Linked DNA regions of Homo sapiens. The protein of the gene in region 1 interacts with the protein of each later gene in a biochemical or structural test. Each region holds a gene or a part of one and is shown in the gene's direction. Other genes may lie near its edges.

Evidence for each region.
Region 2: the proteins of MYPN (region 1) and ANKRD1 form a complex in vitro, tested with the Homo sapiens proteins (one study listed by BioGRID).

The regions. Positions count from the first base shown.
Region 1 is NC_000010.11:68,105,109-68,112,487, forward strand, and holds the start of MYPN (myopalladin), read left to right. Parts: upstream 1-4,379; 5' UTR 4,380-4,615; intron 4,616-7,379. UniProt on the Homo sapiens protein: Component of the sarcomere that tethers together nebulin (skeletal muscle) and nebulette (cardiac muscle) to alpha-actinin, at the Z lines.
Region 2 is NC_000010.11:90,917,289-90,934,404, reverse strand, and holds the start of ANKRD1 (ankyrin repeat domain-containing protein 1), read left to right. Parts: upstream 1-13,317; 5' UTR 13,318-13,377; coding exon 13,378-13,404; intron 13,405-14,056; coding exon 14,057-14,236; intron 14,237-15,136; coding exon 15,137-15,274; intron 15,275-15,432; coding exon 15,433-15,540; intron 15,541-16,574; coding exon 16,575-16,673; intron 16,674-17,116. UniProt on the Homo sapiens protein: May play an important role in endothelial cell activation. May act as a nuclear transcription factor that negatively regulates the expression of cardiac genes. Induction seems to be correlated with apoptotic cell death in hepatoma cells.

The DNA.
Region 1 (7,379 bases):
TTGAATTTTTCACAAATATGTTGGAAATATAATCATTTGAATATTTGCAGTGGTTATGAGCACAGACTCAGGTTCAATTTTGGCTCAGTCACTTACTTGTTGTGTGACCTTGGGCAAGTTTTAAACTTCTTTCTAAGCCTCAAGTTTTCATCTGTAAAATGAGAATTATAACAGTACCTACTTCATAGACGTTAAAGGAATCTATTAAATAAAACACACACACAAAGAGCCTAGCATAGTGCCTCGCACATAGCTAAGGAATGTTAACTTATTACTACCAAGACTATAGTATATTTATGTGTGTTAATATAATCATTATATTAATGTGGTGAGAAGTAGGATTTAACTGTATACCTTGAGGAGTACATACATGGTAACAATTGTTCCAGATTTCTTCAGTAACTTAGTCTCAGAGTGCTCTTTTAAAAAGTTCTGAATAGATTTTCTTCTTGGAAATAATACTTTTTGAAAAGTGTAAACTTTGATATGTACTACATACCAAAAGAACAAGTAAAGGAAGCTTTGTTGTGTTTTAATGCAAACCACACAGTAAAGCTTTAATTTAATCACCTTAAAATTAGGGGAACAAACAGGAAGTGTTGTAATAATTGATTGTTTTTTCGTATTTACCTTAATAAATGCCTTGACCATAGTCCCAGTTTGGTACCAGATAAAGATATTTATACATGTAATATGCATCCTGTGTATAGATATCTTATGTATTCCATATGCTTTATTCTTGAGAATTTCTTCACTCTTATTTTCATTTAGACTAAGGAGAAATCAAGAAAGCCTATTTCCTTAGTCATCTTAGTCATTATCCACCCCCACCAGCCCTGCAGGCTAAGAACATCGTGCAGACTGAGTTATTAAAGTTGATCTGAAAGAGCAATCTGTTCTAAATGACTGTCCCTGGATCTGCAACGGAACCCTGTAAATACCCTTCATTACTCTGGCGGGGCAGTATCACATTTCCTTCATGGCACTTTTGTGTCTGACACAAGTTAGGCAGTGAGATTTGGACTTTAGATGATCCTGGTTGATTGATATAGGAATGGTGCTTCTCCTGAGACAGGTAACCACAAATTTACTTCTCAGGATAATGTTTTAAAGTGGGTGTTCTGTTTAGTTTTTAAAAATGTTTTTAGTTTTTAAAACTAAGTGGGTTTTGAACTTTTAGTTTTTTTTTTTAATGTTTTTAGTTTTCCCAGGCAAGCATTTTCAGTAGTTTAGATGAAAAAGAAATTTCTTAGTGATTTCATTGTCTTTTTCAATTATATTGTTGTCATGCCTTTTATATAAGATCTTTTATAATCCACCACCCATCTATTGTTTTGGATAGTCAAGAACTTGTCTTTGCTGTGAAAATTTTTCTCATTAAAAATGGCTAAAAAATACATACTTTCTCTGTTTTTCAAAAATACGGCATAGAGGTTTTGTTTAGTTTTTTCATCTGATACTGGATATGTCAAGATGAATCTATGAACTTCAAGCAAAACTTATTGAAGCTTTGGTATATGTGAGTAATTTGTTTTAGAGAACTGGAGCCTATAGCGATATAAAAAAATAGCAAATGCAAACATTTTATATGAATCTACTAGCATGGAAATTCTCCCATGCTTACCGTCCAAGTGAAGACTTCCTCTGCCATAGAACTTCCAGATTCCTTGGCATTCCTGTGGATCATCCCAATGTGAGTAAATTGTTTCTGTGGCTGACTGACTGAATTAAGAAAACAGCTGAAGGCAAGCACAGGATCGTGTTCAAACCACAAGAAACACATGTGTTGGATGAGCCACTCAACTTTATGGGGAAGGCTTAAGACATGTAACCAACCTTGTGTTTGCTTGCCACTTAACAAAGTTTGTTTTTAACTATGTTGGGCATTAGAAAGTTTTAAAGATTATTTTTTGTATCAATAAACTCTGATGAAATCTTGAACTAGTAGGTTTGTGATATAATGTTTATACAATTACAACTGAAGATAAGCAAGGCAGGAGCTGGGTTATTTGGAAGCAGAAATTAGTTTTTAAAAACTAAAATCTAAAATATGTTTGATGTACTATAACCAGAGTGTTCACAATTACTAAATATTATTTATTTAAAACATTTATATTCAGCTTTTTTTCAAAGAGCTCAAAAATTGTGTATGGTATCTGTATTTGAAAATGTTGCAGTAAAAATGAAAAGAGAAAGATGACTGCCATTCAGAATGTCTTTGGCTTCTCTTTTCTTTTTTTTTTTTTTTTTTTGAGACAGTCTTGCTGTGTCACCCAGTCTGGAGTGCAATGGCACCATCTCGGCTCACTGCAACCTCTGCCTCCCAGGTTCAAGAGACTCTCCTGCCTCAGCCTCCCAAGGAGCTGGGACTACAGGCATGCACCTCTACGCCCTGCTAATTTTTTTTTTTTTTTGTATTTTTAGTAGAGATGGGGTTTCGCTACGTTGCCCAGGCTGGTCTCAAACTCCTGAGCTCAGGCGATCCGCCTGCCTCAACCTCCCAAAGTGCTAGGATTACAGGCGTGATCCCCCGCGCCCGGCCGGCTTCTTTTTTCTGTAACTCTTCTTTTGCATTTTAAACCTACTTTAATTCTTCATATAGATTCCTAATTTCACTGCCCAACCAGCTTTATTCTACCTTTTAGTATGAGTCTCCTTCAACCTTAGTATTCTATACCTGGGTGAAAGGTAGAATACCAGGCTTATCATGGCAGTTTGCAGGAAAGTAAAAATGTGTTTACTTATAGTGTGTTTAAACATTGCCTTTACTAGCCACCTGAAATAGAGGTTCTATTCTCCCATGGGAGAGACCTACCCAAGACCCAGCAGCACTTAACATTGATTACGGCTTAAGATCTGAGTGGGATAGTGGAGGAAGATCCTCTTTTTAAATAAAAAGAAATTGTTGGCATATCCACATAAATAGAATATGCAGAAGGACAATTAAGTGGTCTTGACATTAGTATCAGCACAAGATTAGGTAAGAGAAAAAATAAATCTGTACATTGAAGCTCTGGGTTACTGTGGTAATGAGAATAACCTGTACAGATAATTCATTTCCTCCTGTATCCTCTTCTCTCCTCAATACCAGTTATTTCAATCTGAATTATTTAAAAGTGTTCTTCATCTTTTTTTGCCTGTGTAAGCATAAAACCACATAAAAAAGGTGTAATTAAACCTCCAATGTGATCACAATAAGCAAAGAAATTTTATATCTGTTCAATGTACTATCAATAGTCTCACGATGACTGAAGAGGATAAAGATCTCTTCGTAAATTCCACGAGGTCAGAAATTTTTGTGTATTTTGTGCACTGTTTTATACTCAGTACCTGGTACACAGTAGGCATTACGAAAATAATTATCAAATGAATGAATGACTAGGAAGAAACCCTATAAGCAGTTGTATGACTTAATTAAGAAAGCTAGATTTAAACCAATGTGTTTCATGCTATCAGAATCTAAGAATGATCTTTTTAAAGAATAATAACCATCATTTAAGTCTGAATTTTCAAAGTCCTGTCTTCTACCATGATTGATAATGTTATAGCATCATTTAATCTATACTAAGCAATCAGGTTAACTTTTTTCAAGTTTATTTATTTATTTATTTTTAATTTTATTATTTTTTTTGAGACAGAGTTTCGCTCTGTCCCCCTTGTTGGAATGCAGTAGCGTGATCTCGGCTCACCGCAACCTCTACCTCCCCGGTTCAAGTGATTCTCCTGCCGCAGCCTCCTGAGTAGCTGATTTATAGGCATGCGCCACCAAACCTGGCTAATTTTTGTATATTTAGTGGAGACGGGGTTTCGCCATGTAGGCCAGCCTGGTCTTGAACTCCTGACCTCAGGTGATCTGCCCACATCAGCCTCCCAAAGTGCTGGGATTACAGGAGTGAGCCACTGCGCCCAGCCAAGGAATTTTTAACGTTAGTTACCTTGTCTGCTTTTGCTTAGCCTTTGGACGAACAATCCAAAAAAGCTCTCAGCTTTAAAACGTTAGACCTTAGCTTCAGGTTGGCTTTTCATAGCCAAATGTCCTAAAATGTATCAGTGATTTAATGAGAGTAAATTTCCTATTGATTAAAATTAAAGATCTTAAAAATTAAAATGAAGAGTTTTCATACATTTAAAAATAATGCCATTTTTTTGAATGATGAACTATGGTATAATGCATTTAGTGTTCATTCCAAACGTCAATCAATAAATAACATGGGCCTCTAGCTATAAGGGAAATTCTATAGGTAAAAGAACTGATTGACCCCCACCCCCATAGGTGCTGTCCTGCTATGGAATCCCTTTGCTCAGTTTTCTCCTGTCCAATCAGGTGGAATGTTTCACAGGCACATGGTTTATACAGCTCAAAATAACTTGGGACCTGTGAGCTGACAAATGCTCTGGCTCCGGTGGTGACAGGTTGTCCAGCTTCTTACAGCCATCTTCACTGAAACTAAGGTTAACTCCTCACTCTCTATGGACGGCTACTCTCTATTTCCAAGGGCGTGAAGAATTTCCCTCTTCTCCTGTGCTTTCATCTAAAAGTTCTCCCTGGATAATTATCATTGCAGTGGAGTGCCTGGATTGGACATCCTCATCTGGGTCAACTAAAAAAAGAAAGGTAATATCCAGATTTAAGTTCACAAGTGTGTTTTGATAACAGGGCACTGACAGTGGAAAAGCGAATATTTCAAAGAACTCATTACTGTTACTTGAAATGAAACCTAGGATAACTGTCTAATTACATATGACGGGACACGAAATTAAGTGAAAAATAAAGCTTTCCACATGTAAAGATTTTGGAGGGGATTGATGAGACTCACAGAGATCACAGACTACTTGAGTTCCTAAGGAAAAATATCTCAACAGAAGAAGTTGTGACATGTTGCATATCTCATTGGCATTTTCCACACATTCATTTATTAAAAGAATGTTGTTTATATAGAGAATATGTAAGCAATGCCAGTTTCCTTTTTAAAGGAAGTTGAATCTAAAATAATATGCCTGCATAAAGACTTTCATTTTAAATTTTTTTATCATGTAAAAGGATACGCTTGCTATATTTAGTGTTGGGAGATCTGCTCCCTGGATTAATGTACACAACAGCTGCAGAAAGTCTTGCTCAAGGGACATTGCTCTTTCTTTCTCCTTTCTCTCTCTCTCTCTCTCTCCGTCTCTTTCTCTCTCTCCCTTTTCAGCTGCATCAGAAAGACACTTGACAGTCAGTGGCAAATGTTTGGCCTGGTACATTGCACTATTAGCAGTAATAGATGCACATCTTGAGTTAAATTTTAAAAACTGTATAAGCAAAGACAGAGAAAAGATGGATTATTATGTATTTCCAGTCCTCAAAAGTGAACATTACAGTAATGGTGTTAAGGAATTTTAGTAACTTATCAACAGATTTTTATATGCTTATTAAAGATATTAACATCAGCTTGAAAGAAACAACACAGTCATCCAGTTTTCTTTCTCAAAAAAGTATGATTCAATTACTTTTACTTTAGTAATAATGAAATGAATCCTACAAACACTAAATTAAAAATTTGTCATAACTTTATAGTCTCTCCTTAATAATAACAGCTCTTGAGTTCACATAAAATTCATAATCCTTTTCTAGGAAATTGAGAATGTCTATACTTACAGCTATCATAAACATATTTTTTAAAACAGAAAATAAGATATACTGTCCGACACATGATTTGACAACAAGCAAAATATTTAAAATCAAGGCCATCCCAAGAAATCTGAAATATATGGATAATATACTTACAGAGGTGTCAAGAGATAAAATTATAGGCCTTACAGAATCTTATAATAATGGACTATGAAACAAACAGTTGAACACTATCCAAATTCTGGAAGTGTGTCTCTATCCCCACTTATAGTATATGGCTAATGCTACTGGAACTCATAATAATGTGTTAAAACCCCAGTCTTCCATATATCTACAATTTATAATATAGACACTACTACAATATGCTTACAAAGGCACTTTCAGTAGAACAGACACAGAACCACAATTTATGGACACAAGAAGTTGAATGAGTTTTTGTCCAAGCTGGTTTTGGAATTCATAGTGGTAGTTTTTGCAAATTTGCTTTTGAACATATGAGACAACAGGTAAATCAGGTTCCATTTTGAAAGGGTTTTAATGAACTAATGTTGGTATGTGAAAAAGTGAGAGTTCAATTTTTCAACAGTTAGTTCCTACACGTAATAGGAATAGTAGACTCAGTTCACTAACCTGAAAATATAAGTCAAATGCTCCTGCCAACCCTAGAACAATTAATTTTTTTTTCATTCACATTGAGATTTGACAAAGATGTTGCTGGTCTCATGGTGTTAGATAACAAGATAGAAAAATGAAAGGGTTTTCTTAACAGGTTTTCCCCTCTCCTAGGGGATGATATTTTTTAAAATATCTCTGTGGTGCTTCATGGTTGACCAAATGCTTTTAAAACTACTATAACATTACCCATTTGCTTAAAGGGAACAACTTAGGTAGAGACTAAATGGTCTGTTTAGAAATTTAAGAACAATTTCAGCAGATATATTTTTGGTGGGAACAAAGGTTGGTGGGACTATTTACCTGCAGTAGCTATAGAGTTCTCAGAGTTCATGTATAACCAGAGTCACCTTGACAAGCTCTGTGCAGGCTCCCTGCTACGGAGACCTCCACTCGGAGTCACAGTGCACTCCACTCTCAGGGAGGGGCCCAATAGAGCCTCCCAACAAAGTGCTTGAACTAGAACTTGATCTTGAGATCCCTTGGGACACCTACTGCTCTCTCAATCTAGCAAATGTATTATGTCAATTTAATTAGGGAAGTTAGCTTTTTTCAAATCCTTAATTACCTTAAAAATGACACAAATAGTAAGAAGCTGAAGAAGAATGAAAGTGTTAAATTTTTGCATTTAAAAAATAAATATTTGAGTTGATAGGGATTGACGAAGTTTTCCCATTTGGGATTTCCTTTATAACAGTTTGGTTCATTATGAATGGTGAGATCTTGAGAGTGATATAAAACCTCCTATGCCTATCACTTTTGTGACAACCACCAAACCCTTTTTCTTTTTTGATCCTAGATTCTTGAAGTCTTCTTGATTGCCTTCCATGAGACTTTCTATGGGCCATAGGATTTATTTTTTACAATATTTCTTCTCTGTCTTTCAGATTAAATAGTACCTTTGAGCTCTGGCTGCAGTGTCTTTCACTAGCGCTTCCCTACATGTTTGTCATCCTCTGGATACAAAAACATACATAATACGCTTCGTAGGAGCCAGTCTTTTTTCTCCCACTCAAACGAAATCTTTACTTTCTTTCCTACATTCTTACTTTTACCAATTCGATTAAAATAATAATAAGAAAATGGCCTACTCACC
Region 2 (17,116 bases), about 23 Mb from region 1:
GCTTGGAAAATTATTATCCAGCACTTCTAACCAATTGCTTATGTCTAATTTAGACTTTTCAGAATTAAAAAATGCTAGATTAGCACTTAGTAGTTTTAGGTTTTTCTTTAATATAACTCAAATTATGAGAAAGATATTTCAAAACCCAGGTTCCCGGTCCATTCCTTCCCTGTCATTGGCTTCCCTGGCCCCTTTGCTTCAGTAACTCAATCCCTACTGGAGATGAGATTTGTTTAACAACTGAGCGCTTTAGAGTGTTTTAGTACTTTACTTTTGTTTGCTTTTGAAACAGTCCCACTCTGTCACCCAGGCTGGAGTGCAGTACCTCAATCCTAGCTCATTGTCACCATGAACTCCTGGGCTTGAGTGATCCCCCTCCCACCTCAGCATCTCGAGTAGCAGGGACTACAGGCATGCACCACCATACTCAGCTAATATTTTATTTTATCTTACTTTTTGTAGAGATGAGGTTTCACCATGTTGCCCAAGTTGGTCTTGAACTTCTGGCCTCAAAGGATCCTCCAGCTCAACTACCCAAAGCTCCAAGACTACAGGTGTAAGCCACTGTGCCTGGCCAGCACCTTACTTTTGCTAGAAATTTTATCTTACCTGTGAGAAGCTGTAAGCTGTATCCTCACTGTCTTGCCTAAAACGTGGTAGATATGAGTTGAAATGAAGTAACTGGTTTTATTTCTGTCTGCGTTTCCATTTCTGTCAGGAAAGGGTTCAATTTTTGGCATAAATTCCTTTCCTGGATTTATGCCCACAGTCCTGGAAGAGTTTAGCTATCAATCCCCCAAAATTTGATTGATTTGTCATTTTCTGATGCTGGAATGGGTTTGTTAGAGGAAATTTATGGACACGTTACCCTAACTGGCAAGAGCCTTGAGTGTGGAGGATTTCCTGAAGAGACACTCCAAGAACCTTCTGTGGCTTTTTGTTTTTCCTTTGGATGTGGTATGATTTTTATGGTCTATTTGTTATAATGCTTCCCTGACGTAAAATACTCATACAGCATAAATAACCTCTCCCTGAAATACTTAGAAACTTTCCAATCTGGAAGTCTGAGCTTAAGCTCCCTGCTTTAAATACACTACAGACAAATTATCCACTGGAAGAGACAGCAAGTTCCTATCAGGCCAAAACAGTACTTTTTACTATATTTACCCATTCTTAGGATGCCTAAGTACACAGACTTGGTGTTTATATATTTCGATGCTATGTTGTTTATTGCACAAAAATTAATTATTAGTATAACTTCTTGTTGGATTATGTCTTTCAGTCTTCTTTGTCCCATTTAGTGCTTTTTGCTTTGAATTTGATTTTGTCTGGCACTGATACTGTCCCTTCTGCATATTTTGGTAGCATTTACATGGTGTCCCTTTGTCTATCCCTTTATTTTCAACCGTCCAGTGTCATCCTGGTATATCTCTTATAAATGGCATAGACTTTTATTGTTTGTATTGTTTTACATCATATAAGAGTATCTTTCTAAGAAAATTCATTTTTCTTTCATTTTTAGGGTTCCAGTTCCTCCCCCCAAAAAATTTACTATCTTAACCATTTTAAGAGTATATTTCAATTGTATTAAATGCATTCATAGTGTGCATCCACCACCATTATCCATGTCCATAACTCTTTTCACTTTGTAAAACTGAAATTCTAAACTCTTATAACTTTCTATTTCCCCCTCCCTCCGGCTCCTGGCAATCATCACTCTACTTTCTGTCTCTATGATTTCGAATGCTCTAAGTACCTCATGTAAGTGGAATCATACAGTATTTGTCTTTTTGGTTTATTTCACTTAGCATAATGCCCTCAAGGTTCATCCATGTAGTAGCATATGTCAGCATTTCCTTCCTTTTTAAGGCTGAATAATATTCTATTGTGTGTAAATACCACATTTTGCTTGTTCATTCATCTGTCAATGAACACTTGGGTTTCTTCCATACTTTGGCTATTGTGAATAATGGTGCTATGAATATGGGTGTGCAAATATCTGTTCAAGACTCTGCTTTCAATTCTTTTGGGTATACACCCAGAAGCGGAATTGTTGGATTTTAAGAATATCTGTCTCTTTCTTTCTTTCTCTCTTTCTCTTTTTCTTTCTTTTTAAAGATGGAGTCTCGCACTGTTGCCCAGGAGGGAATGCAGTGGTGCGATCTCGACTCACTGCAAGCTCCACCTCCCGGATTCACGCCATTCTTCTGCCTCAGCCTCTCGAGTAGCTGGGGCTACAGGCACCTGCCACCACGCCCGGCTATTTTTTTGTATTTTTAGTAGAGTTGGGGTTTCACCGTGTTAGCCAGGATGGTCTCGATCTCTTGATCTTGTGATTCACCTGCCTCAGCCTCCCAAAGTGCTGGCATTACAGGCGTGAGCCGCCGCACCCGGCCATTATCTGTCTTTCAAAAGAGGCATTTAACTCATTCATATTTATTGATTTGGGTATATTCTGGCCACTTTCATATTTTATACTTATTTATTTACTGACATGTTCAGCAAATATTTTCTCCACATTTTTGTTGTTTCTCTGATGCAGGGTCTTTGAAAATTACAGATGAGTTGTGGTTGTAACCATGGTGATGAGGAATAACAGAAATACAGTTTTTGATGCCATGTCTTGAAAAAAGCATATTTGTCTTGAAGTTAACAGTGTCAGAAGTTGGTAAAGCCTCTTAGTAGTGATTGCCAAAGGGGTCACGCTTAGTTGTAAAGGCATTTAACTGCAACAAAGGTGCTGTGGACTTGGAGTCATTCTGGACTTTGAATTGGCAACCCTCACCCCCCAAGATACACACACATACATGCACACACACACACTTGCTATGAGACCTTGACTATTTAACCTCCACACTCACTGGTTTCCTCATTTGTATAAATGCCAGAGTGACTGAGGGGATTAACTGGAGCAACATGGGAAAGCACTCTCCACAATTCTAGGCTTATTGCAGTGTCTTAACAATGTCTGCATAAAAATAACACATCTCTCTTGGTTTGTGGTTTGTTTCCTTTTCAGAACTGGGGTCTGGTTGGTATGCAGGAAAAGAAGGCATGTGAGCTATGTTATCTGCTTGTCATCACAAGAGTAACAAAGTGGCAGGCCATGGATTGAAACACATCCGGAGCATTGGGGTGGGCCTTGGAATTCCACAGTGAAGACTCCTAGATAAGGAAATGCCAAGGGTGGGGGCTGCTGAAAGCACTGGCTTCCGCTGGGCAGCCACAAGGTTCTTTTGGGAAGGCGGATGAGGAGGGAATGTGGCTTCCAGAGCCACCAAATAAGGAAGGACATCATCTTTCTCCACTTCATCCAAGTGTGAATGTCAGCAACCAGAGTCACTTACTCCACGCCTTCTCACTACCCACTAAATGTGATATTGGAAGGACCTAGGACAAGCGCTGAGCAAAGTGGCACAGTCAGGAAATTCTTATGGACAAATCAAACATTCCTTTAATTTTTCAATATGATTTCTAACCTCTATTTTTTTTCCTTTTCCTTCTTTTACCATACAGAACTTATCTGGAAAAGAGGACAGCTGTCTTTTGAAGGCAGGAGTTGCTTTAAACATCCCCAAGCTCTTGTAATCACAGCCCCGCCGCCCCTGCCCAGTGAGATTTGTCCAGGGTGGTGGGTCTGATCTGTAACTAACCCAAACTGATTCCCTGGGGAGCCATTCAGTTGTGCCTCCAGAAGTCATTTCCTTGCCAAACATTCCTTTTCAGGGAGAGGACCTTTTCATCCCCTGGTAAACAATCCCCAGCCTGCACAGAGCAGAGAAGGGTGCCTGTCCCTCTCCTCATTCTCCACTTAGTCCTGAGCTGATTCCAACCCCAGAGGCGTCAGTCTGCTCTATAAATTCCTTTGTGAAACCTGAGAGCCTTGGCTCTGAAGGAGAGCAAAGATCTTGGAGGGGTTACAGTTCCCCTCCTCCCTAAAAGATCTGCTTGTGTTGGCAGCAAAAGAGTATGTTTTTGCAAACAGGCTCTTCCCTTTCTTATGAGAATTCAGTTTAGAAGCACTGCCAGGCTCCTTCTCAGTGGGAATAAGATCACCTCCCTTGCAGGTCTGCACTGGAAAGAGATGACATGCCTGAGGGGATTATTCTAGCTAAAAGACTCTGAGCCTCTTTCTCAACCAGTCACTATTAGAAGGGGCATGGTTGCCAGGAGGCAAGGAGAGCTAACAAGTCCTCAGCCCTGAGGTGCGTAGGCCAGCTCTTTAGTTTCAATCACTGTGGTTTTTAAAATCGGGGGATGGAAGGGAGGAAGGTAGGAGGGAAGGAAGGAAGAGAAGAAAGAAGGGTGAGAGGAAGCAAAGAGGGAGGAAAGAAGAAAAGAGACATTGAAAGAAAGTGAGAAAAGAAAGATAAAAAGAAAAAGAGGAGAAAATAAAGAAACCTTCGGTTCATTGGCCTTCAGCTGGACCATGACCTCGCACACCCACCCTGGTACCCTCCTCCTCCTCCATCAGCCTCCCAGAGCATTTGTGCTTCATTCATATTTTAGCCATTTCTTAATATACATGTTTCCTTAACCCTGGAATTTGGAAATGAGATAATAAATCATCAACTAGTAGAATCTTAGAAAACTCGTCTTTTCAAAAACAGTATATTATTTTGGTGCCATTAAAGAAAATCAAATGAAGAAAGCAGTCAGCTCTTGCCTAATTGTAAGACCTTCAATCTCACCATTTGCATCATAATATTAAGTGGGTTCTAATGGATCTCATAATCCCTGAGGTTTCACATATATTCAAGCTTTCCCTTGTATACATAGGATGGCTGAACCAGTGCGAGCTGACGGATGCCTACATTTTTATACTCTCATCAGAAACATCTCCATGCCATTTCCAGATCGATCGTGGTGGGTGGGGACATGGGTAAGACATTCTGGCTGGGTGAGTCTTCTCTACCTAATCTTCTGCCCAGCTGCCTGCACCAAAAGCAGGTGCAGCTGAGAGGGCACTGTCCACAGGAGCCTTATTCTGTAGCATTCCTGTGGCTCTAGGGAAGCCTCTGAAAAACACTGATGTCAGGGTGGTGTGCCAGCAGACTTGCCCACTTCTTGGCTTCTGTCCCTTCCCTCCCTCTGACCCCATGCTGGGGCCACCTCCTTTTTTGCTTTCCGTTTAAACACGTTTTTACTGAGTGCCTACTATGTGCTGGGGACTGCTCTCAGCACTTGGTCTACATCAGTGGGAGAAACAAACATCTCTTGCTTCGTGAAACTTACGTGCTAGGGTGTCTGTTTTACTAAAATGTTTTATTCATGTTTAAATTTTGAGATATACAGAAAGTTGAATGAATAGTAGAATGAGCACTGTCACCTAGATTCGCTAATTGTTAATATTTTACAGTTGTACTCTCTCTCATCTTTCTCTCTTTCTACACACATGCATACCTCTTTTGCTGAACCATTTGAAAGCATCATAGGTCATTCCTACATACTTCAGAATACATCTCCTAACAATAAGGACATTCTCCTCCATTACCACAAAACCATCATCATGCATAAGAAAATCATCACTCAGTTAATAATATTGTCTAAAATACCTTCCATACTTCTCCAGTTGTCCTCAAAATGTATTTTACAGCTTTTGTGTCTTGAATTACAGGATCCCACCAAGGTTCATGCTCTTTCTTCTCTTTTAATCAAAGAGAGAACAATTCCTCACTTCTTTTTTGTTTTGTTTTTCTAGTCATTTACCTTTTTGAAGAGCCCAAGATAGTTGCCCTGTTGAATGTCCTACATTCTGAATTTGTCTGAAATTGGATTCAGGGTAAAATTTTTGGTAAGAACATAAGTGATGGTGTGTACGGTATTTCTTGTTGCAGCACTTCAGGAAATGGATAATGTCAAGTTGTCCCACAGGAACAGACTAAACAAACGTATTGAATGAGTAAGATAATACATATGTATAGAACCTCTTCAGGTGTCATTTGCTCCAGTGTGTACAGTTACAGAACTGGACTAGACGATGTGAAAGCCCTTCTAATGGTCCAAAAGCCTATGTTCTGAAGAGCTTAACAATACCCAGTTATGAAAATGGTTTTGATCCAGTGGATGAAGGTAGTTCAAGTAATGGCAGTTCAAGTAATGGCAGTTCAATGGCAGTAATTTCACCTTTTAGCTTTTTTCCCTTTGACTAGCAAAAGTCATCGGAAAAAATGCTCAATACGTGTTTTTGGTGATGATCATTCCTGAAGCTAGAATGAGACAAACAGACTAAGCTGCCCAGCTGTAAGTAAGCCACAAGAAACTGTATTGCAGTAAGATTTTTAAATATGAGGATAACGACAAAGGGAGGTTTTAGTTTTTAAAGTAATAGGGTTCTACCTGCCTAACTCTGGCCCTTCCTGGTCAGGGAGTGGACTCAATGACCACTCAGTGTGTTACTGGCCCTAAATTTCTCTGATTCCCAAGGAATCCATAGTGAAGATATTCTGTGGCATTTGCCCTTTATTAGGAAACTCCAAACTACACCAAGAAAATATTTTTTTCGGTACTTCTTCTTGAAGTCAGAAATTGCATTTTAAAAATAATTTTCCTCTGCTTTAATAAATGGCTAAAAAGGTTAATGGATTTTCTATCTATGTTTGCAGTCACAGAAGCACTTATCTCTCATTCCAAGTAGATGTTCTATGTAATTGGGTGTGAAGTAATTCCAAAGTTGCATCAAAATCTTTTCAGAGCGTTACTATGACAATCAAACTTCCTTTTAAAAAATCATCTCAACGCAAACTCTCCATCATCCCACCGTCCATTGAGTGAAATTTAATCTCATGAAGTAAATTTGGCTTTTGAGAAAGTTGAGGGGTGGGAGGGGAACCATTATGCATTCACATTTTAACTGATTCTCCCACTCACACCCATTCTTCTTGAGGTTGTAATAGACAGGCCAGTTGTCCTTATCACAATCCCAGAATGTTGATTGTTAGAGGCTCTGCCTTCCTAATGTTCTGGGAACCAGTGTAGGGGGCCTAAACAAGAACCCATTATTTGGGGAAATAAGAATGTAATAGAAAGTCACTGAGATCCCTTCCTGGACACTTATCACTACCTTTTCTATGGGGACAGATGTCAGCCTAGGCAAGAGCTTGGGCAGGGATTCTCAGAAGGGGAAGAAAGAGGATGAGGCCTTATAAAAATCTCTGCGGTCTTAGAAGGTTTGAAGAGGCATAATCAAAATTACCACTACTTTTATTTCATCTTGACCCCAAGTTGATCTTCTTGAAATTTCTATCCATGTAACAGAGAGTGTGAAATTTTTATGTTTATCAAGTGGGAGAATGTCTTAAAGATAGTGGAAATATCCTGGGCTAGTGAAAGCTTTATGGACCGTTTCCTCTTTTAGAGGCATTGGAGAATCAACTTCACTGTCCGCACGTGATGCTGCAGTTATGAATGTTTATTTCTACCTTTTGATTCAGTGACTTTGAGACCTCAGTAAAACTTTAGGGCCCTAGAAATCATTTTGTTCTCAGCTCTCCTTTTATAACTTCAGGATTTGAGATGGTAAGAGGTGAGAGGACTTGCTCCAGTGAACACAGGGCAAAGCCAGGATTTAGAGGTAAGCCTCCTGATTCTTCATCCCATCCCCACCAGACCCACAAAACTACTGTCTCGCCTCACTCTTCTTGATTTGTGGCAGAAGAAGCATGTTATATTGTCTGTAGTTTTTGTTAAATACTTCAGTAAAACTGTGTGAATGCCGTGAGGGCAGAGTCGTGTGTCTCTTGAGAGCATAAGTATATCTCAGCTCTAGAAAAATGCCTGACACAAAGTAGAGCTAAATAAATATTAAATGAGTAGGCCAGGCACAGTGGCTCATGCCTGTGATCCCAGCACTTTGGGAGGTCAAGGCGGGAGGATCACTTGAGGCCAGGAGTTCAAGACCAGCCTGGCCAACATGGCAAAACCACATCTCTACCAAAAATACAAAAATTAGCTGGGCATGGTGGCATGCACCTGTAGTCCCAGCTGCTCAGGAGGCTGAGGCAAGAGAATTGCTTGAACCCGTGAGACAGAGGTTGCAGTGAGCCAAGATCGTGCCACCGTACTCCAGCCTGGACAACAGAGCAAGCCTCTGTCTCAAAACAATAAAATAAAATAAAATAAAATAAAATAAAATAAAATAAAATAAAAAATAAATGAGTAAATTGTATGTGTGTGTTTCCCATGGTCTTAGCATAGGCAAGAGTCTTCAACAATCAAAATTCTGAGACCAGAATAACAATAGCTTGACTGTCCACTACAACTTGGAGAAAATACACGTGTATTTAGATACATATTCATTTAATTCTACACCCTCGAGCAGTATTCTCAATGCTGGGAGGAAATTAGAATCAACTGGAAAACTTTAAAAAATACCAATTCCTTGGATCTTTGAGCAGAGATTTGGATTTCATGTGCCTGAGCTGAAGCCTGGGCATCAGCATTTTTTTAGAAGCTTCACAGAGGATTCTAAGATGCACCCAGCTTAGAGAATCACTGCTTGAAGAAATGTTAGTTCACACCTGAGAAGCCCTGACTCTGCGATTACAACTGTTGGGGTTAGTTAGCATTTGAAAGACACTAATGAGCTGCCCCCACTCCAGTGGAGGTAATCCCAAGTACTTTACCTATCTTTACCTTTGATAGTATTGACAGATTAATGGTTAATTAGCATGAGAAATGTTACCAATTATTTCTCATTGAAAGGAGAATTTGAAATATGTGGTTTGGTTAGAAAAGAATATGAGCCCTGCTGGGTCTCAGGTAAATATTTATTTAGCCCCACTATGTGTCAGGCACTTTTCTATGCAGTTGGAGTCCTAGGCTTATAGTGAGTGCTAGGACTCCATCCTATCTTGTGTTAGGCCATATGTGGAGGAGTCTGTAATCACCTTGAGTGGACTAGAAAATTAGCTGAAATATGCTGCCAGAATGTGGTTGTGGTTTCATTTGCTTCAAGTGAAACTTTTTCTTTTATTTTTTTTTAAATAAAAAAACATAGAGCCAGGATCTCGCTATGTTGTCTAGGCTGGTCTCGAACTCCTAGGGTCAAGTGATCCTCCTGCCTTGGCCTCGCAAAGTGCTGAGGTTACAGGCATGAGCCACCATGCCTAGTCAAGCGAATCTTTTGTGCTGGACACTGTCCAAGGGCCTAAATGGACAAAGGGCTGGGCTTCATGAGTTTACTGAATAGTGCATGTGGCCCTTTGTGCCTGTTGGCTGGTGTGAGTTCATATGTGTGGCAGAATTTGCACTGAGATACCTTATTTACTGTAACAAGGCACCTGCTGTAAGGTGTGGAGGTGAGACCTACAGCCTTCACCTACCTCTAACGTCAGGAGGCCACCGATATCCGTAAAAAGTAACCTACTGTGGGCAGCCCAACTGTGTTAGGGCAGTTTGTGCCCTTTCTATCCAGAGTCCTGGGCAGAAGGACTTTAGTCTTGATTCTGCCTTTCGAGAGGCAAGGAAGGCAGGTGCCACAATCCTGCTGAAAATGTTTCCAGTACTTTTCTGCTTTTCAAATACAGGTTATCCCATTCCTGGCAGGGGAGGGGAAACAACATTAAACCTTATTTGCTTCACTTTTATGACCTTCCTTTGGCATTTTCAAACACGTAACTGAGCCATGGCTTGCTGGTCAGGCTAAGTCAGCCACTTCTCTGGGCCAAGGAAGGTGCGTAACAGCTGGGACTGGGAAGGCTATTAAAAGGGATGGCAAAATGAGCAATTGTAAGTACAACAGTGGAACAAGGAGGTTTCCAAGTCAGAATCTGGCTACAGTCCTTGGAGCACTTCCTTTTAGTATCAAGTTGGGTGTTCTAAGGACAAGGAGTGTTAATAACAATAAAATTTTATGTGCTATAAAATGCCTTTTTAGAAAATAAAAATGCCCATTTTAAAAAAACAGCCTACATGTCCACAAATGAGAAAGTGGTTAAATAAGAAATGGTAGGTCCGTGCATGGAAATTCATGCAGTTGTTTCTAATAGCAAGATAGATTTGTTTGTGCAGATAGGAGACAATCTGTAAGACACGGTTACTGAGCGAAAAATAATCAAGTATCAAATCGACAGTAAGATCTGAACTAAATAACATTCTCTGTGCTATTTTTAACAATAATGTGTCTATTATATAGTTAAAATATAAGAATGAAAAGTTGGAGTAGAAGTAGAACGTCTGGAACTTCATATTTTATACAGAAAGATAAAACTGCCCTTGGACTTGGAGCTGAGCTATGGCACATGGATCTGGGTGGGGTCCAAGCGCCTCTTTTAATCCCTAGGTGACAGCAGTAATTGCTTTAGGTGCTACTTCTCTGCTTCTCACTTTCTCCAGCTATAACCATGGTCCTAATTCTAGTCACATGTCATTTCACCCATGGAAATGCATAAATCCTGAGGGGAGTGGGAAAAGGCTCATGGGGTGACACTGGAGAAGCTCAGGGATGCTTCCTTTACTCTTTCTGGTTGGAGATGGGTGATGCCAAGTTGCTTTATGATTGTAGAACCAACTAGGACCTTTATTGTTTTAATTCATCTTAGTAAGGATAGATTATGTCCAGATTGAGGCTATGATAAAGCCAAATACACAAATATAAGAATTTACACCACTGGGTGAACTTTTATGGGAAGGATGCTTCTGAAAAACAAATGACAGAAAACTCTCCGCCAGGGGAATTTTTTTCTCAATTTTGATGAATAAGAACGATTTGAAAATACAATGGTTGTTGTTTTTATCTTTTTAGAGAGCTAAAGGTGCCTAGAATCTCTTTTCAAAAAGCAGATTCTCTCATGTTTTTTTTCTTTATTTGTTGTCATATTCTTTTTACATCTTCTGACCACTTATCCTCAAGTTGTACCTCTCATGTTTTATAATGACAAGCTGGATCAACATGGGAAAAGGTTGAACTGGCAGTGATTTCACCAGCCCTGACATCCTTGCATCCACCAGCGTGCTCCTTTAAGTTCAGCCCATTCCATCAACTCATCTTCAAGTGTCATCCTCTGCAAAGTTTTCTTCAAGACTTCCTGGAGCCTCTCTATAGAATCAGCTAGGTTTCAAGGGATAATTAAATGCCTGGAGAAAGAAAAGGGCTTGGTAAGCCTCCCTGCCCACTTTCACTTGCATTCTTTGAGGTGATTGAAACAGTAAGGAGCCATTTAATCAGTTTTGGTTGCATCCTGAGTGGGTCTAGGTGAGACTTGCCCTAGGAAATCTTTTGGGCTCAATGATTGTCTGCTTCTGTTGGATGGAATCAGGACTCTTCAACCTAGCATTCACCAACTAGCTGTGCATCTGCAGCAAGTTACTTAATGTTTCTTTGCCTCAGCATCCTCTCTGTAAAATGAGAGCATTAGTCTTGCTCCAACTTCGAGGGCATGGACAGCTCTGGGATTTCATATCCAAGACCCTTAAACATCCCACAGTCCTTCCCCCAAACACTTCTCCTCCTAATACCTCCCTCAGTTTGGGTCAGGCCTGGAACAAAAAGGCATACGAAATGGTAGAAAAAGTGTCCATGACTACTTCTGACTTAGATGAAGAGACCAATGAAAATAGTAATGACTCTGTTTGCTTCAGCAGGACATATACTAAAATAGGAGCTATACAAAGAAGATTAGCATGGACTCTGTGCAAGAATGACACACAAATTTGTGAAACATTCCATATATTAAAAATAAATAAATAATAAAGAGAAAAGGAAAAAATTAAAAAGAAAATAGTGATAGCTGTGTCCATCTCAAAGAAAAGCCCAGGAGATTTCCTTTAATTAACCCCCTTTTAAGATAGAATATTAGGAGACCGGAACATATGATACAGGAGGTACTGGGAGGGTCCCTCTTTGTCAATGTTTTGTCTTGGGGTGGGGAGTCGATGTCTTCTCAAAGTTTCAGAAACACCATCCACTGACTGAGCATTCAAGGGGGAAGAGGAGAATGGCAGCCACATTTGTTGATTGGGTGAGTTTGGGGAGAAATAGACACACAAAGGTCAAACATAACTTCCTAATTAACACTTCCCTCCATTCACAATTCCCTTCTCCCATTCTTCTCTCCTTTCTTTTACTGAAAAAAACCCAGTTTTTCCTGAAACTATAAAAAGACCCCAGTATTTTTACATAATTTACACCTCAAAGATTAGAAACCAGAAATAGAGACCTTTTTCAACCCTTCCGGAAGCAAAGTGCATTATCCCTCCAGCCACGTGTCTCAAATCTTGATGCATCAGAATCATCTGGGTGCTTTGAAATTCAAGATGATTCCTACGAGTTACCATAAATCAACTCAGAATTCCCTGGAGTGGGGCCCAGGGATCTGTATTTCTGACAAGCTCCCACAGGTGATTCCTTTCCCCACAGCATTTGAGAACTTCAGCTCAATGACCTAATCAGAGTCCTGCCATTGCTAATAACTGGTCTCATTTTTTTCATATATATATATAGTATTTTTGGTAGAGATGGGATTTTGCCATGTTGCCCAGGCTAGTATTGAACTCCTAAGCTAAGCAATCTTCCTGTCTCTGCCTCCCAAAATGTTGGGATTACAGGTGTAAGCCACTGCACCCGGCTGATAGCTGGTTTCATTTACTCTATTTCTTGACCACTCTGATCCATTTTGAAGTAAAAATGCTCCAATTATTATGCTGTTTTAGAACACGGTAAGCATGTCATGTGCTAATTATGGCCAGTGACATCATAAAAGAAAAGTGCATTACTGAATGCTTTCAATTTCTTATAATGATGGTAAGGTGGCATGTCATGGGGCCTATTTAGCCCCAGACATCACTCCAAAGAATTCCAAACAGATATAGACAAGTGCCTTTAGGGCCCAGATCCCTTCCCCTCAGGCTGTTTACCCAGGGAATAGGATGTCCTGGGACAAGTTTCCCCTAAGTGAAGTGTTGATAAGTCTGCTTATCAGAAAGATATTACTGGGGGTGTGATATGTAGGGCATCTACATTTTCTTGATAGGTAGTCATATGAAAGCTGACAAAGAAAAAAAGGGCAGTGATGTGGTGCAATGTCAACAGACAGCTGTCCCCTGACTCTTGACAAATAGGATGACTTGCATTGCTGAGCGATGTGATCACCACCAAAGGAATGGCCCTCTCACATTTCTTCCTGATTCACATATTCAGCAGGGTTAGCTTGTCCTCCCCTCCCTCTTCAGCTTCCCAGACACTGAGTCTGGAATGAAAATTCACCTGCCTCTGAGTTGGCTCCTAATGGGGGTGGGAGTGTTACTTCGGTTCCCAGGTTGGAAGATTATCTCACCCGGCCCCAGCTATATAAGCTGACCGGTGTGGAGGGGCCCAGCAGGGCCAACTCCAGGGATTCCTTCCACGACAGAAAAACATACAAGACTCCTTCAGCCAACATGATGGTACTGAAAGTAGAGGAACTGGTATGTAAGATGCATTAATTTTATAAAATGAAAACTGGTTCATCTTGGTTTTTATTTGAAAATTGAAATGCCCTTTGCTTTCAGGTGTAATGCAAGGGAACTCTGAAAATGTCATATATGGAAAAAGGTTGATGTGATGAAACAAGTGAAATTGGAAAAAAAAAATGGAGCTACCAGTAATGAATTCTCTGCATATTTCCTATTTAATATCTTCTCCTTTGGTTTTATTACTACAGTGTGGAATCACGTGTAGTTATCAAAATGTCTTAGGGAAGAAGTGTTATTGAAAGAATGTAAGCCCGGAAACTTTACAATAAGGCGAAACTCATCAAAAGTACCTAAAGTTGAGTTTTAATTAAGCAGAGAAGGTTTTTGATTTTCCTAAAAGAAATGTGATTAAGCAGATTAAAAGTAGATTTAATCTGTCAACCTAACCCAAGCTTTGATTTAACCAAGAGAGTAGGACAAGCATCTGAAGGTAATTCTGGGACAATTGTAGCAGTGTGCATCGCAGCTTGAGATCTGAGAGTGCACTGCTCAAAGGTGGCTGTTCCCAGGGGAGAAGGACCAAGAGCCTCCTGCGGCATTGTCTGTGAAGAATGACCCAGGACGAGGCTGCTGCTTCTGACGCTGCCATCTTCTTCCCTCATAGGTCACTGGAAAGAAGAATGGCAATGGGGAGGCAGGGGAATTCCTTCCTGAGGATTTCAGAGATGGAGAGTATGAAGCTGCTGTTACTTTAGAGAAGCAGGAGGATCTGAAGACACTTCTAGCCCACCCTGTGACCCTGGGGGAGCAACAGTGGAAAAGCGAGAAACAACGAGAGGCAGAGGTGAGAGCCATCTGTGGAATCCACTAGTAGGATGTTGGGGCTGGGGTAGGGAATGGAAATGTCAGGGAAGGAGAAGAGAGAAACAAACCCAATCATTAAGATGTCTCTTTACCAGATTCTAACCCGTAAAGAGGCAACTTGTATGGAACAGGTTTTGGGAAATAACTCTTTGACAAGACTATGACCTCTGAATTCTGAATCAATGAATAAATGTGCTGTGACCATGTTTTGATTGAAAGATACACATGTCCAGTGAATTCCTGATGTTACACACCATGTAGTTAATCCCAAGCAACGGAGATCTCTTTTTCTCAATAACATGGTCTGTGGTCCATAGATCATTGTTTAACTGTCTGCTATCTGTGTTGACACAATCTGTGTTTCTGGGTGAATTTTCCTTAATTACTAACACAGATAAAATTTGCTTTAGTTAGCTGTGGTCCCTGGACAGTCTGTTTTAGAAGGCTCTGCTTAGTGAAAGAGAATGACATTGATATTTCAGAGCTTAACATTTATTGTTAGATTCTTTTTATCATGCTCAAAAATTAAACCAAGTTTTGAGCATAATTTTAAAAATCCTTTAAAAATCTAAGACTTGCTTATGGCATTAATTACAAAGTCATCACTTAGAGACCAGATCGTGTCCTCAATTGGTCAAGGGCTGATTCTACAAGCAACAGAAGTAAAGATGATGGCAATTAGCTGAAAATTAGACTCCCAGATAAATATCTGAATAAGAAATCCCTAAAATGAAGTCAAAGATTTATATAATTTTTAAAAAATGTTTTTGCTCAAACTGTTCACATGTTTATCTCAGACCTTGCAGATTTAGTTTAGACACAACCAGAATGCTTGTCAGTAGAACTCACCATATTTTTGAAATACGAATTTCTTTTTTAGCTCAAAAAGAAAAAACTAGAACAAAGATCAAAGCTTGAAAATTTAGAAGACCTTGAAATAATCATTCAACTGAAGAAAAGGAAAAAATACAGGAAAACTAAAGTTCCAGTTGTAAAGGAACCAGAACCTGAAATCATTGTAAGGGCTTTTTTTTTGGTTTCCAGTAATACATGTCCAGTGTTGTGCTACAGGGGAGCAAATATCTGTGGAGGGTTTGATTGAATGCTGGCAAGCTCACGGTAACTCTCATGCTATATATATATATATATATATATATTTATTTATTTTGGCTTTAGACGGAACCTGTGGATGTGCCTACGTTTCTGAAGGCTGCTCTGGAGAATAAACTGCCAGTAGTAGAAAAATTCTTGTCAGACAAGAACAATCCAGATGTTTGTGATGAGGTAAGACTCATGCAAAGCACTGCAAAATCCAGCTCATTAATTTTATGTTTCTTATGCTTTACTCCAGTCTTGCTAATATAGTGCCAAAGTCCTTCCACCTGAAACAGTTTCCCCAGCTGTTGCTGTGTATGCCAGGAGCCTAATAGGAGAGTTCAGTGGTCCAAAAAATAAATAGATATTAGATCAGTGATACGGATTGCATTGTTTTTTGCACTCATATACATCTGGCTGATTTTTCAGTTTTTCTTTAACTTCTTAGATTCTTGGGATAAGACTTTTAATGTGGGCCAAAAAGTCACCTTTAGAGATATATTATTAGCATCATCTTTGATTAAAACCAAGCACGTCAACACTAGATAAGAAATCTGGAGATTGGAGTTCAGGGGCCAGTTGTACCACTACTTGGCTATTTGGTTTTGAGCAGCTAATTTGCATCCTCTGGGCTGTGGTTTCCTTATCTGTAAACATGGGGCATTGGAGTGAAATAACGCCTAAAGTTGTTCCAGCTCTAATAGTTCATTAGCCCATTCAAATAAAGCCAATTTATCAGAAATCACTAATCTTTTTGTATTCTTTCCCCCATGAAGTGAAATTGGGGACCGCTTCTGAAGTTGAACTAAAAACATGTCTCCCATTCTCCTAAAAATGAATGGAAACTTTTTGATAGTCTAGCAACAGTCCCAGATGCAAGAAAGCTGTCTGATCTGCATGGTAATGCTACATGAACAAGGAAGGTGCAAGATAGAAGAAACGGAGATGTCAGCATTTAGATAGTTTTGAGCCTTTAAGTTCACACTCCTCAACGTAGGCCTTTGAGCCCTTGGAAATGTATATTGGAGGAAGCTCAAATATTAGTTGCAGGATAATTGTTCTGATTCTGCAATTTTAGTTAACTTTGACATTTCTATTCATAAAGAAGCACTTGAGTTTCTATCAGTTAGGTCATCAGAATCTCCAGCTTCATAGCTCTTAAAAGGGTTTACACACATTTTTATATTTATTGCTATCTCTGTTTAAAATCTCTGTTCTGATAGTATAAACGGACAGCTCTTCATAGAGCATGCTTGGAAGGACATTTGGCAATTGTGGAGAAGTTAATGGAAGCTGGAGCCCAGATCGAATTCCGTGATATGGTAAATATATTTCTTTGCTTGGGAATGAGCCAAAAGAAGTAGACTATATGAAGCTCCGGAAAACCTCCAATGCAAAACCGAGCTGATTGGATTGAAAATTGATCTGAGAGAACTAGGCAAAAGCTCATTTCTCCAAATAAAGGAAAGTTGGGAGATGAGAGTAGGTCATGTGAAAATATTTTCCATACATACTGAAAATAGAGGAATATTTCAGGGAAAAGAAGGAAGTGAAAGCTGTTAAACTGAATTCAATATCCTCATCAGCGAGTTAGTCATTCATTTTCGACACTTGCCTTTCAACAGCCTTGTCCCTCCATTGTTCACAGGGCAGCCTGCTTATGGTTGGCTGCCAGCAACATATACGAATTCTCTAGCTGCACACTTTATATGATAGATGCCAATTGCTACCAATGAGATTTGGGGCTAGACTGCATATGAAATGA